Regions from separate parts of the Homo sapiens genome. Here region 2 is linked to region 1. Evidence: fine-mapped QTL for protein levels in blood plasma. Region 1 holds a variant in brackets. A gene starts in the other region. All regions are shown on their forward strands.

Region 1 (12,576 bases):
GTGTGCTGGAGATGTGGCTGGGGTTTGTCTTACAGTGGAGGCAAGGAATTGCAACTTTTTTTTTATTATTGTACACCTTGAAGGTGAGGTTAATTAAGTCCTGTTGCGGGGTTTGAGGGCCAGATTCTAATTTTTGGAGTTTTATTTAATGTCGGGAGCAGATTGGGTAATAAAATGTATATTGAGAATAAGACGGCCTTTTGACCTTTTAGGGTCTAGGGCTGTAAAGCGTCTCAGGGTTGCTGCCGAATAAGCCATGAACTGGGCTGGGTTTTTATATTTGATAAAAAAAAGAGCCTAAAAGCTTCTGATTTGGGATAAAGAAAAAGGAGCCTTAACCTTGACTATGCCTTTGGCTCCAGCCACCTTTTTAAGAGTAAATTGCTGGGCAAGTGAGGGAGGGCTAGTCACAGAACGAAACTGTAAGCCAGACCAGGTGTGAGGAGGGGAGGCGATAAAAAGATTACAGGGTGGAGGAGCGGAGGCTGAGGAAGAATTGGGACCTAGCTTGGCCTGGCGAGGAAGGGAGAGGTCAGATGGGTCTGTAGAAAAGGAAGATTAAAAAGACTCAGCGACGCTTGGGGTTGGGACTGAGGGGACAGACGGGAGGGAAAGAAGGAAGATTTGGGACGAGTTGCACTGGGCACAGAGACTAGGAAGGGACTGATGTGTAAAAGAAAGCCTGAACGTCAGGCACCTCAGACCATTTGCCCATTTTATGACAAGAATTATTTAGATCTTGTAGGATGGAAAAATTGAAAGTGCCATTTTCCGGCTATTTGGAACTACTGTTGAGTTTGTATTGGGGTCGAGCGGCATTGCAGAAGAAAATAAGACGCTTAGATTTTAGGTCAGGTGAGAATTGAAGAGGTTTTAAGTTTTTGAGAACACAGGCTATGGGAGAAGAAGGAGGAATGGAAGGTGGAAGCTTGCCTATAGTGAAGGAGGCAAGCCCAGAGAAAAGAGTAGAGACACGGAGAAGGGGTAGGGGTTTCTTGCCCTCCAGAAAAGCAGAGAAAGGGTTGGGGCATGGAAATAAGGAATTGGGGCACAGAGATAAGAGGTTGGGGTGTGGAAATAAGGGATTGGGCGTTCTTGCTCCCTAGAAAAGCGGGACTTGCCACTAAGGGTGAAGGAGAGGGGGTTGAGGGGTACTTGCCCCTCCCCCAGAAAAGCAGAGAAGGGGTAGAGACAAGGAGAGAAGCGGGACTTGCGGCTAAGGGTGAAGGACCAAGGCAGGTGTCCCTGCGTGGTCTGACACCTTTGAAACATGGGTGAATAATCAGAGAGGCTTCCCTGCAATGATTAAACACCAAGGGAAGGCTGCCTTCCCAGTCCGTGACCGGCGCCGGAGTTTTGGGTCCACGGATAAAACGTGTCTCCTTTGTCTCTACCAGAAAATGAAAGGAATTGAAATTAAGAGAAGGGAGAGATTGAAGTGTGGCGCCAAGATTGAGAGGAGAAACAGGTTGAGGGATAGTGAGGGAAGCTGGAGAAGAGAGTAAAAAGAGGCCTCTTACCGGATTTGAAATTGGTGAGATGTTTCTTGGGCTGGTCGGTCTGAGGACCTGAGGTCGTAGGTGGATCTTTCTCATGGAGCAAAGAGCAGGAGGACAGGGGATTTATCTCCCAAGGGAGGTCCCCCGATCCGAGTCACGGCACCAAATTTCATGCGCATCCGTGGGAAGAGACCACCAAACAGGCTTTGTGTGAGCAACATGGCTGTTTATTTCACCTGGGTGCAGGTGGGCTGAGTCCGAAAAGAGAGTCAGCAAAGGGAGATAAGGGTGGGGCCGTTTTATAGGATTTAGGAAGGTAATGGAAAATTACAGTCAAAGGGGGTTGTTCTCTGGTGGGCAGGGGCGGGGGTCACAAGGTGCTCAGTGGGGGAGCTTCTGAGCCAGGAGAAGGAAATTCACAGGGTTAATCCCTCAGTTAAGGTGGGGCAGGAACAAATCACAATGGTGGAATGTCATCAGTTAAGGCAGGGCAGGGCCTTTTCACTTCTTTTGTGGATCTTCAGTTACTTCAGGCCATCTGGATGTATACATGCAAGTCACAGGGGATGCGATGGCTTGGCTTGGGTTCAGAGGCCTGACAGAGACCATGTGGTTTTTTTCACTTTGGGAAAATTTATCACACTATACACTTATGATCTGAATACGTTGCTGTATGGTTGTGTTTACTTAAAACGGACACATAAATAAAAGGTATGCTGGGCTGGATGCTCTCACAGGGAAAGGCAGCACAGAATAACAACGTTATCTGTTGAGTGTTTACCATGTACCAGGCTCTGATAGAAGATTTGTGGATACATTATCTCATTTAATTCTCACAACATTATTAGAATCCTATTATTATCCCCAGTTTACTGATGAAAAAACTGTAATACAGTCAGCTAAGTTAACTTTTCCGAGGTCCATGCAGGTAGTAAGTGATAGAGACAGGTCACAAAACACAGACTTTCGAATACACAGCACATGCTCTGTACCACTGAGCTACAGAAAATGACGTGTTCTGTCTGGACTAGTGCGTCTGAGGGTGAGTTCTTCGTTTTCCTGGAGCCTCAGTTTCCTCTCTGCTTCTTTCAGCTCTCACATTATAGTTTAATCTGAATTGACTAACAGGTTCATGCATCTCTTTATTTCTCTTCCTCCCTGTGGCCTTCCCCTCAAAAAAGGACTCTTGTTATAGCCGAGTGAGATGTTAGCATACAAATAGAACTTTAGTCTGAAGTCCAATTGCAGAACCATTTTTTGTTCTTCCTTTCCAGGTTGGTGGAGTACTACCTGTGCAGAGCTGTCTGAATCTGTTCTAGGGCTACCTTGCATTTGCTATTGTTTAATACAATCCTATCAACCTTGAAGTCATCATTGGTGCAGGCCCCACCCATACAGGCACTAGTTTCTCTAAAAGAGGCACTCCTGTGCTGCAGCCCTGCTCATTTGAATGAGATTTTACCTGGATAATGCAAAAGGCATTTTGAGGAATGCATCCCAGCATTTGAGGCAACTCCCAGCAGAACAACCTGCCATTTGTGATGCCTTCTTCAGGTTAAACATTTTAGATTAATCAATAAGTAAATGGCAAATAAATGGCATGAGCCCCATGTTCAATATAAATGAGATCAACTGAAGAAGCAGAAAAGGGCACTTTTGGCACCATCCAACACGCCTTAGGAAGTGCTGCCTTCTCTGCCTACTTTGGGTGAATATCCAGAGATGTTTTAGAACGTCAGAGTGTCTGGTGCCTTTTGTTTTAACACATGGATTTCATTTTGGGGTGCTATTGTCCTGAATCTCTGTCACCCAGTAGAAAGGTCATGACTCTGGCAAAATGTTCTCCCTCCTCCAATATAAATCTAAGCAACCAGCCCCAGAATAATACAGTGGCACAAAAATGCCGAGACCAGAGCAGGAACATTGCTGCCTTGGAGAATTTGCCAAACACTACCCCAAATAAGCTTTTCATAAGGAATCCCATTTATTTCTCCCAATACTTGCTGCTAATTTACTTCAGTTACACTTTTCGGGTGTGTAATATCTCATTTTTGAGAAAAATATGTTGCAGCCAAAAGAGCTGACCTTGGTGTGTTTTCAGACTATCTGCTGTGTACCTGACAAATGAGGCACCAAAGCCCTTCCATATTCTGTTTGGGGGGCTATTGGCTGAGGAATCCTTGGTCATCCCACCTGCCTGGCATCTAGGATCATGATGAATTGTCTCCAACTCTAGCCTCAGATTGTTTTTTAACATTTAATTTAGTTTCTTCCTGTGCTTGGATGAACATGGCCATGTTATGGATTTCTGCTCTAATGTACACCAGCAGGCTGGAAGAACAAGCCTCAGCAAGCTGTGGAAATTAGAGAGACTGGATCAATAGGCAAGGTCACGACCCCCCAGCTCTGATTCTGTACACTGTCCTGAAATTCTCTCCCCTGGAAATCCTCCTGCTGCTTCGAATGTGAATCCGTGTGCATTCCCAGAGAGGAATTCATGTAAACAAGCCTACCCCAAACCCCTCACATCTCAGAGAGCAACACCCATAATCACAAACACTAAAAAAATTTGTATAAACCACAACCTAGGAATATAAACATCTAGGCATTTGCTTTAGGTGCAGTTTGTGAACTCCATTGTTTAAAAGACCCTTTCAGAGGGAGGGAAAATAGATGAGGACAAAGAGACAGACGACCTGCCAATTCCAAAGTACACCTCTAAGAAATAATCCTGTGTCACACACACACCTCAAACAAAAGGATAGACTCTTCTGTCCCTATGTCTTGAAATTTTTATGAGACACAAAATTGGTAAAATCAACCTGATTTCAACTCTAAGAAATACCTCTGGGCTCAATAAGACAGATTAAGGAGAACACATTTGAAAATATTTTAAAAGATAGCAGGTGACTTTTAGATCTTGTCAGTACGAAGAACCTACATTTCCAAACACTGGACAATATCCTTAACAAACCAGCTTTCTATCTGGAGATGTACAAGTTGATGTTGTTCAGAGTTATAATTTTCCTGGGTGGAAATAACTAATGCGTCAAAACTTCAAACCTGCTAAAGCAAACCTGCTAGCGGTAATTTATCATATTCACTAATCACTGGTTCCAAAATGACCTGACATCAAAATGATCAATTTAGTGGGGGGAAAAAGGCATCTTAAAGATCTGTCTTTGGGAAGAAGGTTAAGGATGTGCAAAACAATGGGAGAAAATGAAGGAGATTTGGGTCGAGGGGAGGAGGAGGAGGCTCCAAGAGCCCCTTTTCATCTGGAATCTGGGTGCCACCTTCATGTGTAAATCTGAAGCCACGTGGCCCAGGAAAGTGGGATTTCTTTTATTCGAAAAGTAAGTTCAGTATATGATAATCCGCATCTTTATCTAAACCCCTTATTCAGGAACAACAGCGAAAGAACTTTCTAGAGTCCAGTATTTCTATGACATTTGATAGTTTTGCTCCATAATTTAGATCACTGGGCTATATTTGAGGATGTAGGGGGTGATTCTCTGTTGCATTTTTGACAAACCACTTAGCCAATCCCTTGTCTTCATACTACTGCATATCAGAAATTTTAAGTGAAACAACATCACACTTTAAATCTCCAGATGGAAAATTAGTTTGTTAAGAATACTGCTTTGTGCTTGGAAGAAGGTTGTTACTGGCAAAGGATATTATTTGCAAGAATTCTGGGCTGGGCGTGATGGCTCATGCCTGTAATCCGAGCACTTTGGGAGGCTGAGGCGGGCGGATCATGAGGTCAGGAGCTCAAGACCAGCCTGGCCAACATGGTAAAACTCAATCTCTATAAAGAAAAAAAAAAAAAAATTAGCCGGGTGTGGTGGCTTGCACCTGTAATCCCAGCTACTCAGGAGGCTGAGGCAGGAGAATCGCTTGAGCCCCAGAGGTGGAGGTTGCAGTGAGCCAAGATCACGCCATTGCACTCCAGCCTGGGTGACAGGGCAAGACACTGTCTCAAAAAAAAAAAAAAAAAAAAAAAAAAAAGAATTCTGGAAAGTTAGGGTGCTTTTTGGCAGCCCAGAAAGTAATTGTAAAGAAGTGTAAATCTTGTGCTTTGACAGTACTTTATTTTGACAGGAAAATACACACACAACCCCCTATTTGTTTTTAGGTACTGCAAGAATCACATTTGCTCTGGTCCAACAGAAATAGCCGCAGTGAAAGATCTAGATATGAACAGGGATTGGTGAGGATTAATGAGGGAGTGATTTAGAAGATATAAAAAGGCAAATGATAAAGATTTTTCTCCTGCTGAGTGAAGGCTTTCAGTTTGGAAATACACCTCACTTTTGATCACAATGGCAAGTCACAATGAGTATCTGGATGCATAAATGGCTGTTCAGAATCATAAAGTCTAGAGCAGGAGCTAACCTATTATCCAGTGTTTTCCTCTAGATGAATAAGGTTATGATCTCAGTTTTTCAGCACCTAAGATCCTGAGACATTTATACACCCTGTCCAAGGCCTACCTACCAGGAATACACAATTGACTGGAGCTCTGCATTGCTGTCTATTGATACAGGGCTTTACCTTCATATAAGGCTATGTCCTCATTACAGGGTTCTCCTGTAATACCGACCTCCAACCCCTGATGCAGGGCTCTATCCCTCATACAGAGTTTTA[C/T]CACAATGAAGGGTTCTGCTCCAATACAGGTCTTTATTCTAATACAATAGGGCTCTGTTCCTACTGTGGGGGCTCTGATCTCTCATGCAGGAATTTATTTCTGTTCTTGTGATTTAATGTCACGTAACAAGTTGCCCCGAAAATTAGTGGCTTAAAACACTAACAGCATGTATTTGTTCATAAATTACAGTTTGGACTAAGCTTCAGGTAGATAGCTTATCTCTGCACCATGTGGCATCAGCAGGGGCATCTTGAATCATCTGGAGGCTGCTGTATTCACAGATCTGGTGGCTGATGCAAGACATTGGCTGAGGCCTCAGTTCCTCTCCGTAGGGGCCTCTCCATGTGTTCTCTCCACCTGGTGATTCAGACTTCTTCACAACATGATGGCAGGCTTTGTTGGAGTACAGCAAGCATCCCAAAAACGTCTAGCCTTGGAAGTCACATAGCATCCCTTTTGCCTTAATTTATCAGTTGATTCCCAAGCCGCTGCCCAGATTCAAGGGGAGAGAACATAGACCTCACCTCTCAGTGGGAGGAGCCTCTATTTCACATTGTAGGATGAGCAAATGGAAAAGGAGATGTTGTTGCATTCAAGACAATACAATCTGCTATAATTTACCTTCTGGCCACAGCAATTCAAATCCCTCCTATGTGCTAAATATATTCATGCCCCCGCTTCAAGGCCTCAAGTCTCATTCCCCTGAACCATCAGCTTAAGGTCCAGGATCTCATCATCTAAATCAGGTCCTGATGACGTGGAGGACCCTTGGCTTCAGATCCTGGAGCACTGGTCTTTTTGATATGAAGCCCCGTGAACTAAATAGACAAGGATCCACATGGATAGCTCATGTCTGCTCCACTTGGTATCAGATAGGGTAGCTCCCAGGCTGGGGGCTGGAAGCATCTGGAGTATCCCTTACTCGCACATCTATAGCTGGTGCTGGATCTTGGCTAGGAGCCCCAGTTTTTCTCTAGGTGGACCCTTCCATATGTTCTCTTTGTGTAGTAAATTTGGGCTTCCTTACAGCACACTGGCTGGCTTCCCTAGAACAAACATTCTAAAGAGTGAGCCAGCTGGACGCTGTGGTCTTTTTATGAGCTGGCTTCAGAAGATACACAGCATCACTCTCCTGCACTCCATTGGTTAAAGGCTTCCTAAGCTCTGTCAAGATACAAGTGGAGAAGCCCTAAGCTTTACTCTCAATGAGAAAGTCTCAAAGTCACATTGTAAGAAGAGCAAGTGGGATGGAAAAATATTGTAGTCATTTAGGAAAATGTAATCTGCTAGAATGGGCTGCCTTGCAAAACAGTGAACTCCTTTCTACTGGGGTCATTCACAGTGAGGCTGAATGACTAGCAGTCAGGAATGCTGCAGAGGGGATTCCTAATATGAAGAGAAATTTTGACTAAATGACTTCCGAGGTCTCTTGCATCTCTCAGATTCTATGAGGCTATAGAAAGGACAATGGAACCCAGGTACTCTGAAGATTTTAGGGAGCTGAATTATATAGGCCTGTGGCATATAAGAAAAAGCCCAGGCAAAAAAGGACATATGGATAAATTGAAGGTGCTAAGGATGCAGCCCTAGGATAGCCTGTGTCTGAACACTATGACCTTGTCTGCTAACAAGAGCAGATGGCCATGACCCTGGACAGCTCAGGCTGGCAAGAAAGGTGGCAGCTCATATAGTTTATATTGACTTAAAACCAGATGAACCTGCTGCCCAGGAAGAAAAGGGGTTGTTTCCTCTGCTGAGCCAGAATGTAGACAGATACAAAAATCCATGAACTTTTGGGCCAATAAGAGGGAGATGGGACTGTGTGCATGTGTGAGGGCTTTATAAGCCGCGAAGTGATGTGTCAATGTTGTTTATTGTGTCAGGACTTCCATTCATGTAGCAGAGACTTTTGTAAACAAAGCTGAACCCTCTCTTGTGCTCTGTCCCATACGTGGATTTCTTACATTTGGTCAAATCATCTTTCCATGAAGGGGCTTGTCTGTGTCCATTTCCTGTGAGACTCTTGCTTAACATTCTGAGTCAATCAATCAATGTGGTTACAATATTGGCCTCGGACCAGTGACAGGGGCTGTGTTGGTGGACACAGCCTCAGAGTGTGCCTCTCTAAACCTGCTGGCCATCTCTTATCATGTCTTCTTGTCATCAGTTTTTCAAAACCAGGCACTTTTTCTGCTGCGCTCCACCAGGCTGGCTTCCAACAGTACCTTGCTCTGGGGCAGAATTGTACTGGCAAATGCATAATTCAGTGGTTTGTACTTTGCATCTATTAACCATGGCACCAAATGCAGGAATGACACAATGGTGAGGCTTTTGCTTAGACAGTGTTTTTCCTGAGTGAAGCTTAACATTCAAACCAATTTATAATTCCTTTGCATAGTAGATAAGTATCATAATAGTCTTTTAATAGATGACTCGATGGAAACACATATATTATAAGGTCAATGTCACTGCAAATTATTACAAGAGGTACAATTCAAGGGTCCTAACTGTTCGTATCTAACATTTACTTCTAGATTATGCATAGTACATAGTAGGTTTTTAAAAATATCCATTGAGCTTTATTATATTATCAATAGTCAATTAAATAAAATGCAGCTTCAAGGCTTTTTTTAAAACCAAAGACTGACTTAAGATAGACACATTCAACTGGTTTGAAAATCTCTAGCTGAAAAATAACCATTATGTTTCTACTAGATAAATGATGGCAGCCGGATTAAGTCTCAACTAACTAAATATCATATTTACTTGCCTTTATGCAAGTCGTGAAAGCAGAAATAGAGCTGTGGTGGTAACTTTTTATTTATTTTCCCTATCTTATACTTACATATCTTTTACAAAGTCCAAATATTCATAATTCTATTCATTCACAGAATGTCTAGGAGAATCTGTTAGTACAGATACTGTTATTCCTGTTTCAAAGACAGAAGTCAAAAGGTTAGAAGTGATTTATTTATTTTTGCTATGCTTTTTTTTTTTTTTAAGTTCCAGAATACATGTGCAGAACCTGTAGATTTGTTACATAGGTATACATGAGCCATGGTGGTTTGCTGCACCTATCTACCCATAACCTAGGTTTTAAGCCCCACATGCATTAGCTATTTGTCCTGATGCTGTCTCTTCCCTCACCCCCCGACCCCATGACAGGTCGCCATATGTGTTGTTGCCCTCCCTGTGTCCATGTGTTCTCATTGCTCAACTCCCACTTATGAGTGAGAACATGCAGTGTTTGGTTTTCTGTTCCTGTGTTAATTTGCTGAAGATGATGGTTTCCAGATTCATCTGTGTCCCCACAAAGGACATGATCTCATTCCTTTTTGTACCTGCATAGTATTCCATGGTGTATATGGACTACATTTTCTTTATCCAGTCTATCATTGATGGGCATTGGGTTGGTTCCATGTCTTTGCTATCGTGAATAGTGCTGCAATGAACATACGTGTGCATGTATCTTTATAGTAGAATGACTTATATTTTGGTATATACCCAGTAATGGGATTGCTGGATCAAGTGGTGTTTCTGGTTCTGGATCCTTGAGGAATAGCCACACTGTCTTCCACAATGGTTGAACTAATTTATAGTCCCACCAACAGTGTAAAAGCGTTCCTGTTTCTCCACAGCCTCACCAGTGTCTGTTGTTTCTTGACATTTTAATAATCACCATTCTGACTGGCATGAGATGGTATCTCATTGTGGTTTTGGTTTGCATTTCTCTAATGATCAGTGATGTTGAGCTATTTTTCATATATTTGTTGGCCACATAAATGTCTTCTTTTGAAAAGTGTCTGTTCATATCCTTTGCCCACTTTTTGACAGAGTTGTTTTTTTCTTGTAATTTGTTTAAGTTGGTTATAAATTCTGGATATTAGACCTTTGTCAGATGGGTAGACTGCAAAAATTTTCTCCCATTCTGTAGGTTGCCTGTTAGCTCTGATGATAGTTTCTTTTGCTGTGCAGAAGCTCTTTAGTTTAATTAGATCCCATTTGTCAATTTTAGCTTTTGTTGCAATTGCTTTTGGTGATTTCGTCATAAAATCTTTGCCCATGCCTATGTCCTGAATGGTATTGCCTAGGTTTTCCTCTAGGGATTTTATGATTTGGGGAGTGATTTATTTTAAAATAGAGCATACATTCACCCATTCTCTGGTTCAATTTTCTTTCTATTGCATTGTAATATTAGCTAATAAATGATTCTCATTATAACAAATAATTAGCCAGTAAAATTATTATTATTATTTATTGAACAACAATTGTATTCTGTGCCCTGTGCTAAGTACTTTACCTACATTATTTAATTTAATCCTCACAACCACTTTTGAAGGAGACACTATTATTAGTGTCATTTGATAGATGAATCACCTTAGGCTTACAGAGCTTGAGTAACTTGTGTCAATGTGATAAAACCTTTTTTAAGAAAAAAAAAGATGGACTCTGAAACCATGCAAAAGTGCTTAACCACAATGCAGTACTGCTTCTTATGGCAGATATCATGGAGAAAGCTGAAGATGATGGGAAAGAGAATGGGTGAAAGAAATAGGTATGTATGGACATTAATTTTTTTCCAAAGTAACAATTTACATTTCAAAAATTATGATTTCACCATTGTATGAAAGCAACTCTTGCTCCTGTAAAATTAAAGCTTTCCCCTCCTCCCCATTGCATTGTTACAGACTGGTTGGTGTTCAAGTAGGAAGGAATGTGTTCTGGAGTGGATTTATATTTTATAAGATGGAATACGCCATTTTCATGCCCCATTCACTCAGTACTGTTCTCTATCTGTATCCTGGTAACACCTAAGTGTTTGTCCATTCAAGGATATCATCCAACTTGGGCAGGCCAACCTGTGTAAACCACACTTTCCAGCTGCCTGGTTATCATTACTAATGTATCAAAATCTTTTCTGGGAGCTTCTGTGCATCTTTCCACCCAGTGAACCATGATTTTCTTATTCAAAGTCTCATCTGCCCGGAAATCAGGCTTCTCAGTTAATATGACTGTTCTCCTCTGCCTTGTACTAGCCCTGCAGGCTTCACATCAGCCCTGCTCACTGATGCCAAAGACAGTTATGGGACTTTTGATTCAGAAAGTTTCCTTAATATCTCTTTCATGCTCATCTTCTTTAACAAGCAAAAATTGGGGGAAACATCAAATGAGACCAGGAACTTAACTCATTCTGACCCGGAGATGTCAGATTATAAGTAAAATTTCTTGATCCAAATGTCAAATTGAGCAGAGCAAAACCAGGTTTCTGAGTTTCACCATTATGACACTCATCCCCCTGAACCTCCTAGCACAGTGCTAAGGACGGTATGATGAGTGATTTCCTAAGAGGCTAAATATTATATTGGAATCAACATTGCTGCTCGTTTGCACAACAAACCGATGGCCAAAATATCCTTCTACATTTCCTCTCTCAAGTTAAAACCATAACCTAGGTCTAGATGCTTCCATTTGTTTTCTTCTTTCTTATATTTAAAATTTGTCTCCTCTTCAAGCTATTAGGCTTTTTGACTAATGAGAAGACAGGCTGAAAATTCTCCTTGTAGCTCACCTAGACTGGAAGGTCCATGGCTTCTAACCACTTGCTTTATCATACGAACAGCTTTAAGAGTGTGGACTATGGGAAACTAATGCCACCATCTTCAAGAAAACTAAAGTTTTGTATTGCCTATGATCCTTAATTATGTGCCATAGCAATTTTCGTCAAGGTTTGTAATGACCTTCTTCTGGCTAAATCCAGTCATCTGGCCTTCAGTCTCTGTCTCCTCTCTTTGTGGCTCTTAATGCTGAAGACCATTCATTTGAATCTTTTGATGAAACTTTCCCCAATAAATAATTGATTCCCCCATGTTTCTCTCTCCTGGTTCTCCCCGATTTCTTCGATTCTTTTCCTTCATCTAGGCCCTCAGTCCTTGAATATCAGCTCTTATTTCTCCAAAATCTCACTATATGGGTATTTAGCCTGTCATGGGTTTCAATACTATCATTATAAGGATGACTTTCAATTCTAACTCACCAGCTCAGTCCTGTATCCCTTATTCTGCCTTTTTTAAAGGTTAGCATATACTAAATCTAACCCATCATTTTCTCCTGAAATACATTTTTCTGTTTTTTTTTAAGGCGTAAAGTATAGATGGATGTGGACTAATGTGGTAGTGGGCAAAACAAGGAGAAATTAATGTACTTGCAAGAACTTCTCAAGGAATAAATACGGGATTTAATGGCTGGCAAGATGTAAGGGATGATTCAAAGATACACTGTCATTAGCCTAAGCAGGCTCCAGATCACTTCTGACTCCATCCTTTTTTCCTGCCTTATCCTCTTTCCCCAACTAGCCAAAGTGTTTTAACTGCTCTTATTTTTGTCCTCAAGGCCATCGTAGCTATAGACTAAATAAAGATTTGTTAA
Region 2 (12,576 bases), not on the chromosome of region 1:
CAGTGGTTCAAATTGGTGGAGTATCTTTTGTTCTGACCCTTTTACAGTGTCAGTATTTTGAGCATTTGCATCTACCACTGGCCATGCAAAGCCCAGTCCAGAATCAGTGTCTACTCTTGTCAGGACCCAGGTAGCCCTCCAGGCCTACCAGCATCAGTCCACCTTGCCAGGTATGTGCAGGGCCTTCCCTCCAAGGTCATCTTCCCACAGCCATGTGCGGTCTTTCTCTTTTTGGCAGACAGAAAAGTACTTACTGGCATTTTGTGCCTCAGCGGGAAAACAGGACTAAGTCTAAATTCAGCTCTTCTCTGCATGGCTGCTGCCCTGCAATGTCCATTTATTTCATGAACACACGTGGCCACCTCAGGTGAGCACGCAGGGATGTCTGCTTGTTGCCCCAGTTCCTTTTGATCCTGGAAAGGGGTCCTTCTGATGGACATCAACATAACCTGCTTTAATGCACTCCTAAAATTCCTGTTGTGATTTCCATATAGACAAGGTTCCCATTGTCCTTCCGCCTGACCATATGGCCAGGCCATTGGCCACTGTCCAAGAGTTAGTAAAAACCTAAACAGTATGCAATTCAACCCACAGAGCTGATTTGTTTTTGCCTTCTTTGATCAGAGTAACAACCTTCCAAACAATAGGCTGTTCATTCACCTTGGGACTGCCATCCATAAGCCAAACAGCTTTGTTGGTCAATCGAGAGCTGTCAATAGGGCACTGTCCAATTGGCAATAGAATCTAACAACTCTTTGAGTGGGTCCAAAGTCAGTCCTAGGGGAAAAGAGTCTCTCTGCTTTTGAATACACTGAGTAACTGCATTCCCCCAGGAGCTTGTTCCTGATCCAGCCATTTCCATTTCATTATGGAACTCTTCTGGGCCCTGCCCACTCTCTGTGAGCATTTCCCCAAGATATTATAGGTATTTCAGGTTTCAAGATTATCTTACATCCTTCAGTCATAGGGGCAATTTCAAATAATGTCTGATAGCAAGCTAATAATTACCTCTCACATGGAAATTATCTAGTCCAAAGTCTCAGCACTCGTGCCAGGAGGTGCTCTAAGACTTTTGCTATAAAGTCCAGTCTATGCTCCAGAGAAGGCTAACAATCTCTGTGGACTTGGGCAATCTTATTGGTTCCCATTTGGAATGTCTAATCAATATTGCTTGATGAGTGGATTTCCATACCTTCTGTTTTACAATACTAGGTAGTGGAAATATTTCCTGGTCAGATACAATATCCATCCCTGTAATACATTCAGGTAGAAGAGATGCAACCACTCCACATAAAACCTGTTCAAGCGCATACCACTTTTTTGTTTTGTTTTGTTTTGTTTTTGAGATGGAGTTTCGCTCTTGTTGCCCAAGCTGGAGTGCAATGGCGAGATCTCAGCTCACTGCAACCTCCACCTCCTGGGTTCAAGTGATTCTCCTGCCTCAGCCTCCTGAGTAGATGGGATTACAGGTGCGCACCACCACACCCGGCTAATTTTGTATTTTTAGTAGAGACAGGGTTTCTCCATGTTGGTCAGGCTGGTCTTGAACTCCTGATCTCAGATGATCCACCCACCTCTGCCTCCCAAAGTGCTGGGATTACAGGCGTGAGCCACTGCACCTGGCTGCATTTTTATATTCTCTCAATCTCATTGCAGTGCCCATCAGGACTTCAGCAGGTGTTTTTGGTACCACAGTGCAGGACTGGAGGTTGTAATTCCACTGACCAGAATCTAAGCATGGCCCATCTTTTACTTTCAGTTTGGCTATTAGAGATAAAAGTCTATAGGGATTGTATATTTGCTTTTCTTCTTCTTAGTATACATTTCCCTATGCACATGAGTCAACTCCCCAAAAGTTAGTGATCAATCACCTCTAATTTCCATTGGTAACTTTTACCTCCAGTAACTGATTGCAGCATGACTGCTCTTCACACCATGGGTGACCCTGTATCCACTCGAGAATGAAAGGTTTCTCATCCCCTGCCCTTTCAACTTTTCTTTTCCCAACCCATATGTTTCAGTGAGTCAGGGTCATTCTAGTAAATCCACATTTTCTGACACCAACTGCAATACTGCAATTTAATCCTGGCACTAACCATCGGGAGTTAGTGCAGAATCCACACTCAGGTTAAGGGCACGGTCCTGAGTGAGACGGCCTCACTTCTGACACCAGCCACAAGTTCAGGGGTCCCCAGGCCACCTGCACTTATTACCAAGTGGCTACAAATGTAGGGGTTCCCATAACCCTTTCAGATTTGATAATTTGCTAGAACAACTCACAGGACTCAGAAAAGCTTACGGTTATGCTTAGGGCTATAGTTTTATTATAAGAATACAAGCCAGGATCAGCCAAATGAAGGGGTGCATGGGGCAAGGTCTAGGGGGGCCCTGAATGTAGAGCTTCTGTGTCCTTTCCCCATGGAACCAGGACGTTTCCCCTCCTGGCTCATCAATGTGTTCACCAACCAGGACTTGGTATTTATTTGTTTTATTTGTTTGTTTGTTGAGACAGGGTCTCACTCTGTCACCTAGGCTGGAGTGCAGTGGTGCAATCTCAACTCACTGCAACCTCCACCTCCCAGGTCAATGATTCTCACGTCTTAGCCTCCTCAATAGCTGGGATTACAGGCATGCACCACCACACCCTGCTAATTTTTGGCATTTTTGGTAGAGACAGGGTTTCACCATGTTGGCCAGGCTGCTCTCAAATGCCTGGCCTCAAGTGATCCATCCACCTCGGCCTCCCAAAGTGTTGGGATTACAGGCATGAGCCACTGTGCCCAGCCTACTTACCAGGACTTTGAAGTCCAGAGTTTTTATTGGGGTTTCATGACATACGCATGATTGATTGAATCATTGATCATGTAATTGAACTCCATCTCCAGCCCCTTCTCCTCCCTGAAGGTTGAGAAGTTGGGCTGATATCATGTGGACCAAAACCCCAACCCTCTACACACATGCTTGGCCTTTCTGGCACGGCCTGCCTTCATGTGGAGTCGTCTTGTTAGCAGAAGCTGTCTAGGGACCCACCATAAGTCACCTCATTAACAAAAGCTACCAAGAGCCTGGGAAACATGGCAAAACCCCATCTCTACAAAAAATACAAAAATTAGCCAGGCATGGTGGCACACACCTAGTCCTAGCTATTCAGGAGGCCAAGGTGGGAGGATCACCTAAGCCCAGAGAGATTGAGGCTGCAGTGAGCCATGACTGCACCACTGCACTCCAGCCTGGGTGACAGAGTGAGACCCTGTCTCAAAAAGCAATCAGGCCAGGTGCAGTGACTCATGCCTGTAATCCCAGCACTTTGGGAGGCCAAGGTGGGTGGATTGCTTGAGGTCAGGAGTTTAAGACCAGCTGGCCAACATGGTGAAACCCCGTCTCTACTAAAAATACAAAAATTAGCCAGGCGTGGTGGTGCGTGCCTATAGTCCCAGCTACTTGGGAGGCTGAGGCAGGAGAATCACTTGAACCCTGGGGGCAGAGGTTGCATTGAGCCAAAATGCTCACCACTGCACTGCCAGCCTGGGCAACAGAGCTAGATTGCTGTCTCAAAAAAAAAAAGAAAGAAAAAAACAACAACAAAAAAACACTAATCAGGGACCACTATTAATAACAGACATTCCTATCACTTGGGAGATTCCAAGGAGCTTAGAGGTTACTTTGGAGGAACCCAAGACAAAAATGAAACTAATTCCTCATTATACAAGAAGTGGCTTATACATGAAAGGATTGACTCAGCAGGTCTGCTGTGTTCAAACCCTGCACATTTCAGAGAAAATTCTGGCCTGTGACCAGCCCTGAGAGATGAGATTTAAATTACCAAAATATGCTGCCTGATAAGTCTTTGTTTTTCTGGGGCCTTGGGCCATGCCAGATATTTGATGCTAATAATGTGATTTGTGGCAGGGGCCTTTGGCCGCCCAGTATCAGTTTGAACTCTGGAGAGTGAGTAACTGAGGTCAGCCACACAGGTAGTCCACGCTTTCATCACTGACCTCCAATAAAAACACTGGACACCAAGACTCAGGTGAGCTTTTGTGATTGGCAATACTTCATGCGTGCTGTCACATGTTATTGCTGGAAAAATCAAGTCCTGTCCATATAAATCCACTGGGAGAGGAAAAACTGGAAGATTGAGATTATTTTCTCCTGGACTTGGCCCTAGAATATTTCACCTTTGATGGCTTTAACATGTATCTTTTCACTGTAAGAAACCATAATCAAGGCTGGGCACGGTGGTTCATGCCTGTAATCCCAGCACTTTGGGAGGCTGAGGCAGGCGGATCACAAGGACAAGAGATTGAGACCATTCTTGCCAACATGGCAACACCTCTGTCTCTACTAAAAATACAAAAATTAGCTGGGCGTGGTGGCAGGTGCCTGTAGTCCCAGCTACTGGGGAGGCTGAGGCAGGAGAATCGCTTGAACCCAGAAGGTGGAGGTTGCAGCGAGCCGAGATTGCACCACTGCACTCCAACCTGGCGACAGAGCGAGACTCTGTCTCAAAAAAAGAAAAAAAATGAAACCATAATCATGGTATAACCATTTGGAAGTGTTAGTGAATCACTGGCCTGAGGTTGGTCTTAGGGAACACCAGTAAAGTCATCTTCCCCTACATTTGGCAAACAGCCTAATGCTTGACAAAGCACTGGACCACCCAGCCTCTCTGAAGTCCTCATTACAATTGCTCAGGACAAAACCTATTAATTATCCCAGGTACACTTTTCCCCTTTATATTCCACAATTGTCATGGGCAAGCACTGTCAACTCTCCCTGTAACACACACCCTCTATTGAACCCCTTGTCTCTGTCTCTAGTCTAACCACTGGAACCCAAGCCCAAACCTTGTTGCCTGGAGCCCCGCTCTCCCCGGACCTGTTCCCACTCTGCCCCAATCACACAGGCCTTCGTCCCAATCCCTGAACAGTGCGTCAGGGCCTCTGCATGGCCCTTTCCATGCCTGGACTGTCCTCTCCCAGATCAGCTCAGCAATGGTTCCTGCCACAATTCTGCTTACACATCACCTCCTCAGAGACACCGTCCCTCCCCATCCTCTCTAACACACCCTCTGCTCACCCACACCAGCGGGCCCTAACTTCTCTCTACTTCAAACTGTGCTTCTGTTACTGTTTTGCTTCTATTATTATTATTATTATTATTTGAGATAGAGTTTTGCTCTTGTTGCCCCGACTGGAGTGCAATGGCATGATCTTGGCTCACTGCAACCTCCACATCCCAAGTTCAAGCGACTCTCCTGCCTCAGCCTCCCGAGTAGCTGGGATTACAGGCGTGCGCCACCATGCCCGGCTAATTTTGTATTTTTCATAGAGATGGGGTTTCACCATGTTGGCCAGGCTGGTCTCGAACTCCTGACCTCAGATGATAGCTCCCACCTTGGCCTCCCAAAGTGCTGGGATTACAGGCATGAGCCACCGTGCCCAGCTGTTTTTCTTCTATTATTATTGTTCTTGCAGGAGCTGGTAAAGTGGCTGATGTGGCCACAGCTCCATAAATCCATGTGGAACGAAGGGTGGACATCGCCTGAGTCCAGGAGACAGGACAGGGTCACTCATCTCTGTCCCTGGTGATGGAAACTCAGGCTCAGGAAAGAGCCTTGACCTGCCCTGGGTCACAGAGAGAATATGAGGGTCAGGGCTCAAGCCCAAGTGCTGTCTTCAGGCCCTTAGGCTGCCTCTCACACCCAGACTAGGAAGCTGGAGCAGAAAGTTTGCTAGAACAATCCTGAGAAGAGGCCTGCACAGTTCAAGGGGCAGCTTGGAGGAGGAGAGGAAGGGAGGGCGGGCTCTGGCCAGCAGGCTCTTGGACCTCAGGCCAGGCTCTGGCAGCTGCGTCTGGTATCAGGACTGCAGGTCCCGACAGGGGGCGGTGGCTCACGCTTGTATTCCCAGCACAGTCGCCAAGCCTAATGTCCCTTCCAACGGTGGAAAATTTTGGTAAAAATCAATGACAGGCTGGGCGTGGTGGTGCATGCCTGTGATTCCAGCTACTCAGGAGGCTGAGGCACGAGAATCTCTCGAACCCGGGAGGTCTAGGCTGCAGTGAGTGGAGATGGTGCCACTGTACTCCATCTGGACGACCGAGCAAGACTCTAACAACAACAACAAAAAAAACGGACTGCAGGTGCAGTGCCCAGCACAGAGCCTGCTACATAGGAATTCTCATTTTCTTCTCTTCCCTACTCTTTCCTTCCTTTATAATCTCTTCCTTTCCCTCTGAAGTACCGACCCCAGAGCTTGAGATCTCATCCCAGCCTCCCTCTTATTGCCATCCTCCCCTGCTGCCTTCCCCACACCCCTACCTCTCACAGGGTGGGGGTAGGGCCTCCTGGGACCCCAGTCCCAGCCCCAGCAGCAGTAGCAGGCACAGCTCCCAGGTCCTCCCTGGCATGGTGGCTGTGACTGTGACTGAATGAGCAAGCCCAGGCACCTTCGGCTTGCTGGGCACAGCCTGGCTCACCTGCCTGTCCAAGTCGGCCAAAGTCCAGCCTTTGAGGCGTGGCCACCTGAGGGGACGTGTGCTTGGTCTGTGTGTGGCCCGCTTGCCCCTCCTGCTCTCAGGGCACAGTGGCCACCTCCCTTGCTTCTACTTTGCCTCTTCTATTTCACAGTCTCAGCTGGTGCCAATGGCTCAGGCCCTTCCCTCAGAGCATGGTGGTGGGGGTGGGGAGTGGGCACCCAAAGGCCAGGGACACAGTCGAGGCCACACACCTGTAACCTGGATGCCAGGTTCCTTGGGTGGCCCCAAGACCACCAACCTCAGAGAGTTACCATTTCCCTTAACATTTCAAATGGAATGGCTCAAGATCCTGTCCCTGGTGTGGTGTGAAATTCAGGGCCTCTCACTGTTATCTGCAAGAGATACAGCGGAAGCACAGGACAGTAGAACCATTCTGTCTGGGGAGGACTAAGGGAGACCCACAATAGTGTGTCATTTGTAATGAGTCTTTTTTTTTTTTTTTTTGAGACTGAGTCTCACTCTGTCGCTAGGCTGGAGTGCAGTGGCGTGATCTCAGCTCACTGCCACCTCCGCCTCCCGGGTTCAAGCAATTCTCCTGCCTCAGCATCCTGAATAGCTGGGACTACAGGTGCCCGCCACCACGCCCAGCTAATTTTTGTATTTTTAGTAGAGACGGGGTTTCACTGTGTTGGCCAGGATGGTCTCAATCTCTTGACCTCATGATCTGCTCGCCTTGGCCTCCCAAAGTGCTGGGATTACAGGCGTGAGCCACTGCGCCAGTCCTAATGAGTCTTGATGACCGCATAGGAGTTTGCCAAGGGAAATGGGCTGGAGACCACTACAATGTATGCAGAGCATGTGAAGAGAAGAGCAAACCCCTCAGCCTAGCTGCAGAGAACTTGGTGTTCATGCAGGGAAGGGTTTTGAGATAGACTGGAGGAACATGTTGGCACCAGTCTGGAAATGGTCTTTGCCAAGCCAAGGAATGTAATTCCTTGTAATTCCCCAAAGTGGAACCAGCAGAGAAGTTTGTGAGCTTAAGAAGCAGATTCAGGCTGGGTGCAGTGGCTCATGCCTGTAATCCCACCACTTTGGGAGGCCGAGGCGGGTGGATCACCTGAGGTCAGGAGTTCAAGACCAGCCTGGCCAACATGGTGAAACCCCGTCTCTACAAAAATACAAAAATTAGCTGGGCATGATGGCGGGTACCTGTAATCCCAGCTCCTCAGGAGGCTGAGGTGGGAGAATCGCTTGAACTCGGGAGACAGAGGTTGTAGTGAGCCGAGATCATGCCACTGCACTCCAGCCTGGGCGACAGAGTAAGTCTCTGTCTCAAAAAAAAAAAAAAAAAAAAAAAAGCAGATTCGGTTACTTTAGGAGGCTCATCCCCTCAACATATGGAAGGTGAGCTGAAGGGACAGGGGACAGGGGGTGGGCAAGGCACATGGAGTTTAATGATAGGCATGACCTCTCCTGAAGGACTTAGGTTTGCAGTTAAGGATGTCAGTTGTGGCACCTGAGCAGTGTTTACTGCTATTAAAAAGAAAAACCTTAGACAAATTAAATTTAACCATTTATTCAAGCAAAGAAATGACTCATGAATCAGGCACCACTCTGAACTAGTAAAGGTTCAGATAGCTCCACCCAGTAATGTGGGCAGCTGGCATTGTTTTTTTTGTTTGCTTTGTTTTTTGAGACAGGGTCTCGCTCTGTTGCCCAGGCTGGCATGCAGTGGCTCCATCACAGCTCACTGCAGCCTTGATCTCTCAGGTTTAAGGGATTCTCCCACCTCAGCCTCCTGAGCAGCTGGGACCACAGGCACATGCCACCACGCCCAACTAATTTTTAAATTAAAAATAATTTTTTTTTTTTTAGAGATTGGGTCTCCCTATGTTGTCCAGGCTGGTGTGGAACTCCTGAGCTCAAGCAATCCTCCTGCCTCATCCTCCCAATGTATTGGGATTACAGGTGTGAGCCACCATGCCTGGTCAACAATTTTTAAGTGTACAATTCAATTTCCTTTTATTACATTCACAATGCTGTGCAACCACCCTTGCATTCTTTGGATAAATCTCACTTGGTCATGATGTCTAATCCTTTTAATAAACTGTTGGTTTTGGCTTGCGAGTATTTTTTTGAGGAATTTTGCATCAATATGTATAGAGCATATTTGACTGTAATTTTCTTTCCTTGTTTTGTTTTGTTTTTTTTTTTTTTTGGACACATAGTCTTGCTCCATCACCCAGCAGGCTGGAATACAGTGGCATGAACACAGCTCACCACAACCTCGACTTCCTGGGGCTCAAGTGGTCATCTGGCCTCAACCTTCTGAGTAGCCAGGACTACAGGTGCATGCCACCACGCCTGGGTAATTTTTAAATTTTTTTGTAGAGACTACATCTGACTGTGTCGCCCAGGCTGGTCTTGAACTCCTGGCCTCAAGTGATCCTCCCGCCTTGGCCTCCCAAAGTGTTTCTCCCCAAGTGTGAGCCACCATGCCCAGCCCTCTTGTGATGTCTTTATCTGGTTTTAATATCAGGGTAATGTTAGCCTCATAGCATGAGTTAGGAAATATGCCCCTCTTCTATTTGTGGAAGTGTTTGAGAAGGATTGTTAATTCTTTAAATGTTTGGTAGAATTTACCAATGAAGCCATCTGGTCCTGGACCGTATTAGGCAGAAACAATACATATATGGGGGATGGGGGTAGAGAGAGAGAGTTTGAGAGGTAGCTGGCAAGTCCAAAATCTCTAGGGTAGGCTGGCAGGCTGGAGAAACAGGGAAGAAGCTGCAGTTCAAGTCTGAAGGCAGCATGCTGAGAGAATTCCTTCTTCTTCTGGGGAGGTCAGTCTTTTTCAAATTAAAGTCTTCAACTGATTGGATAAGGCCCATCCAAGTTAGGGAGGGTAACCTGCTTTACTCAAAGTCTACAAATTTAAATGTTATTTTCATCTAAAAAATATCTTCACAGAAACATCTAGAATAATGCTTGACCAACTATCTGGATACCTTTGCCTAGCCATGTTGACACATAAAATTAAACATCTTTTTTTTTTTTTTTGAGATGGAGTCTCGCTGTGTTGCCCAGGCTGGAGTGCAGTGGCATGATCTTGGCTCACTGCAACCTCTGCCTCCTAGGTTTAAGCGATTCTCCTGCCTCAGCCTCGTGAATAGCTGGGATTACAGGCGCCCACCACCACACCCAGCTACTTTTTGTATTTTTAGTAGAGATGGGTTTTCACCGTGTTAGCCAGGCTGGTCTCGAACTCCTGGCCTCAGGTGATCCACCCGCCTTGGCCTCCCAAAGTGCTAGGATTACAGGCATGAGCCAACGTGCCCAGCCAATGTTCTTTAAAAAAACACATGACTCTACAGTGATTGTACTAACTTACATTCTCACCAACAGTATATGAGGGTTCCTTTTCTCCACATCCTCACCAGCATTTGTTATTGCCTGTCTTTTGGATAAAAGCCATTTTAACCGTAGTGAGATAATATCTCATTGTAGTTCTGATTTGCATGTCTCTGATGATCAGTTATGTAGCGCACCTTTTCATATACCTGTTTGCGACTTGTATGTCTTCTTTTAAGCAAGGTTTATAGTGATTCAGATCTTCTGCCCATTATGCAGACTGGCTTTGTTCTGGGGGAACACCTCATTATATTGCGCAGGCTGGTCTCAAACTCCTGGGCTCAAGCAATCCTCCCACCTTGGCCTCTCAAAGTGCTAGGATTACAGGTATGAGCCACCATGCCCAGCCAGTAGTGTTTTTTTTTTTTTTTTTTGAGACGAAGTCTTGCTCTATCACCCAGGCTGGAGTGCAATGGCATGATCTTGGCTCACTGCAACCTCCGCCTCCTGGATTCGAGTGATTCTCCTGCCTCAGCCTCCTGAGTAACTGGGACTACAGGCGCCCACCACCACACCCGGCTAATTTTTGTATTTTTAGTAGAGATGGGGTTTCACCATATTGGCCAGGCTGTTCTTGAACTCCTGACCTCATGATCCACCCACCTCAGCCTCCCAAAGTTCTGGGATTACCGGCATGAGCCACCACGCCCGGCCTCCAGCAGTTCTTTTTTTAGTATTATATGTTTACAACTAACCAAGTCTACTCAAATAACACTACATTTCATGGTAGTGCAAGTACCTTATGATAACAAAGTAGTCTTAACTTCTCCCTCCTGTCCCTTCTATCATTGCTGTCATTCAGTTCCCTTATCCATAAACTAGAATCGTTGAATACACAGTTGCTATTACAGATTGAGCACCCCAAATCTGATAACCCAAAATCTGAAATGCTCCAAAATCCAAAACTTGTTGAGTACAGACATAATGATCAAAGGAAATGCTCACTGAAGCATTTCAGATTTTGGATGATCAGATTTGGGATTTTGAACCAGTAAGTATATTGCAAATATTTCAAAATTCAAAAAAAAAAAATCCAAAATCCAAAATTCTCCTGGTATCAAGCATTTTGGATAAATGCCCTGTTTTATTTTGAACAAACCATTATCTGTTAGATTAACTAAGGATAAGAAAAGTAAAAGCTTTTATTTTACCTTCACTTATTCCTTCTCTAAAGCTCTTCCCTTGTTTATGTAGTTCAAAGTTTCTAACTTATATCATCTTTCTTTTCTCTGAAGAAGTTTTTTTTTTTTTAAATACTTCTTGCAAGACAGGTCTACAGATTCTCTCAATTTTTGTTGGCTTGTGAAAGTTCTCATTTCTCCATCACTTTTTTTTTCCTTTTTTTCTTTTTCTTTTCTTTCTTTTCTTTTCTTTTTTTTTTTTTTTTTTTAAGACAGATTCTTGCTCTGTTGCCCAGGCTGGAGTGCAGTGGTGCTATCTCGGCTCACTGCAATCTCCGCCTCTCAGGTTCCAGTGATCCTCCAGCCTCAGCCCCCCAAAGTAGCTGGGACCACAGGCATGTGCCACCACTAAAGTTTGTATTTTTTTTGTAGAGACGGGGTTTCACCATGTTGCCTAGGCTGGTCCCAAACTCCTGAGCTCAAAGCCATCTGCCTGCCTCGGCCTCCCAAAGGGCTGGGATTACAGGCATGAGCCACTGTGCTGGCCTCTCCATCACTTTTGAAGGATGGTTTTGCAGGAAAGAGATTCTAGGGATTATAGGTTGGTGGGGTCTTCTTCTCTGTCAATGCTTTAAATATCTCACATGGCTCTCTTCTTCCTTGCATGGTTTCTAAGAAGTCTGGTGTTATTTTTATCCTTGGTCCTCCATAGGTAAGGTTTTTTTTACTCCTCTGCCCTCTTCCAAGACTTTTTATCTTTGAATTTCTGCAATTTGAATATAATATGCCTAGGTGTTGATTTTTTCTTCTTTTTGGGGGGCATCTGTCTTCCTTAGTATTTTCTGAGCTTCCTGGATCTGTGGTTTGGTGTCTGATACAAATTTGGGGAAATTCTCATTCATTATTGTTTCAAATGTATCTTCAGTTCCCTCTTTCTTGCTCTGTATTCCCATTAATGCATATGTGATGACTTTTGTCATTGTCCCACAGTTTTGGATATTCTGTTCTGTCTGTTTCAGTCTTGCCTCTCTTTGCTTTTGAGTTTTGGAAGTTTCTATTGACATATCCTCAAGTTCATGGATTCTTTCCTCAGCTTTGTCCAGTCTACTAAAGAGCTGATCAAAGGCACTTCCTTTGTGTTTTTTTCTCCTCATTGTACTTCTTCTTTGTTTTTTTCTTAGAATTTTCATCCCTCTGCTTAAATTACTTATCTGTTCTTGCATGTTGTCTACTTTTTCCATGAGCACCCTTGGCATGTTAATCATAGTTGTTTCAAATTTCCGGCCTGATAATTCCAACATCCCCGCTATAGTTGAGTCTGGTTCTGTTACTCGCTCTGTCGCTTCAAGTGGTATTTTCTGCCTTTTAGTAAGACTTCTAGTTTTTTCTTGAAACCAAACCAGTACTGGGTAAAAGAAACCCAGTGTGGAGGTGTCTACTCTGGTAAGTTGTGACTCTCTGGATCTGCCTGTCTGTCTCCAGTTTTGGAGGCAGCTCTGTGACCTTAATTTGCTCTGTGACCTTAATTCTCTGACAGATCTAAGAAGAGTTGCGGGTGTTGTTT

Alleles and levels. Positions count from the first base shown, and alleles are read on the strand shown. Strength reflects both the effect of a copy and how common the allele is.
For the plasma level of the protein whose gene starts at base 6,434 in region 2, T is the low allele of the variant in region 1 and C is the other (weak association).

Evidence for each region. A credible set is the group of variants that fine-mapping cannot tell apart. PIP is the posterior inclusion probability: the model's chance that the variant is causal. The UK Biobank Pharma Proteomics Project read protein levels with antibody pairs (Olink). The fine-mapping took linkage between variants from a reference panel, not from the people measured, so its PIPs are less certain.
Region 2: TREH starts here. The variant in region 1 is the best candidate, but not a certain one, in a credible set for the plasma level of the TREH protein (UK Biobank, PIP 0.71).

Annotation. Positions count from the first base shown.
Region 1 is chr15:53,430,364-53,442,939 of GRCh38, forward strand. No RefSeq gene overlaps it. Among named protein-coding and RNA genes, the nearest start is that of LINC02490, 320 kb to the left of the region's middle. The variant C/T (reference allele first, on the strand shown) is at 6,150.
Region 2 is chr11:118,673,217-118,685,792 of GRCh38, forward strand. It overlaps TREH (trehalase), which reads right to left and starts at 6,434. Exons shown (of 15, transcript NM_007180.3): 1 at 6,323-6,434. The coding sequence starts at 6,411. RefSeq lists enhancers at 5,664-6,325, 6,326-6,985.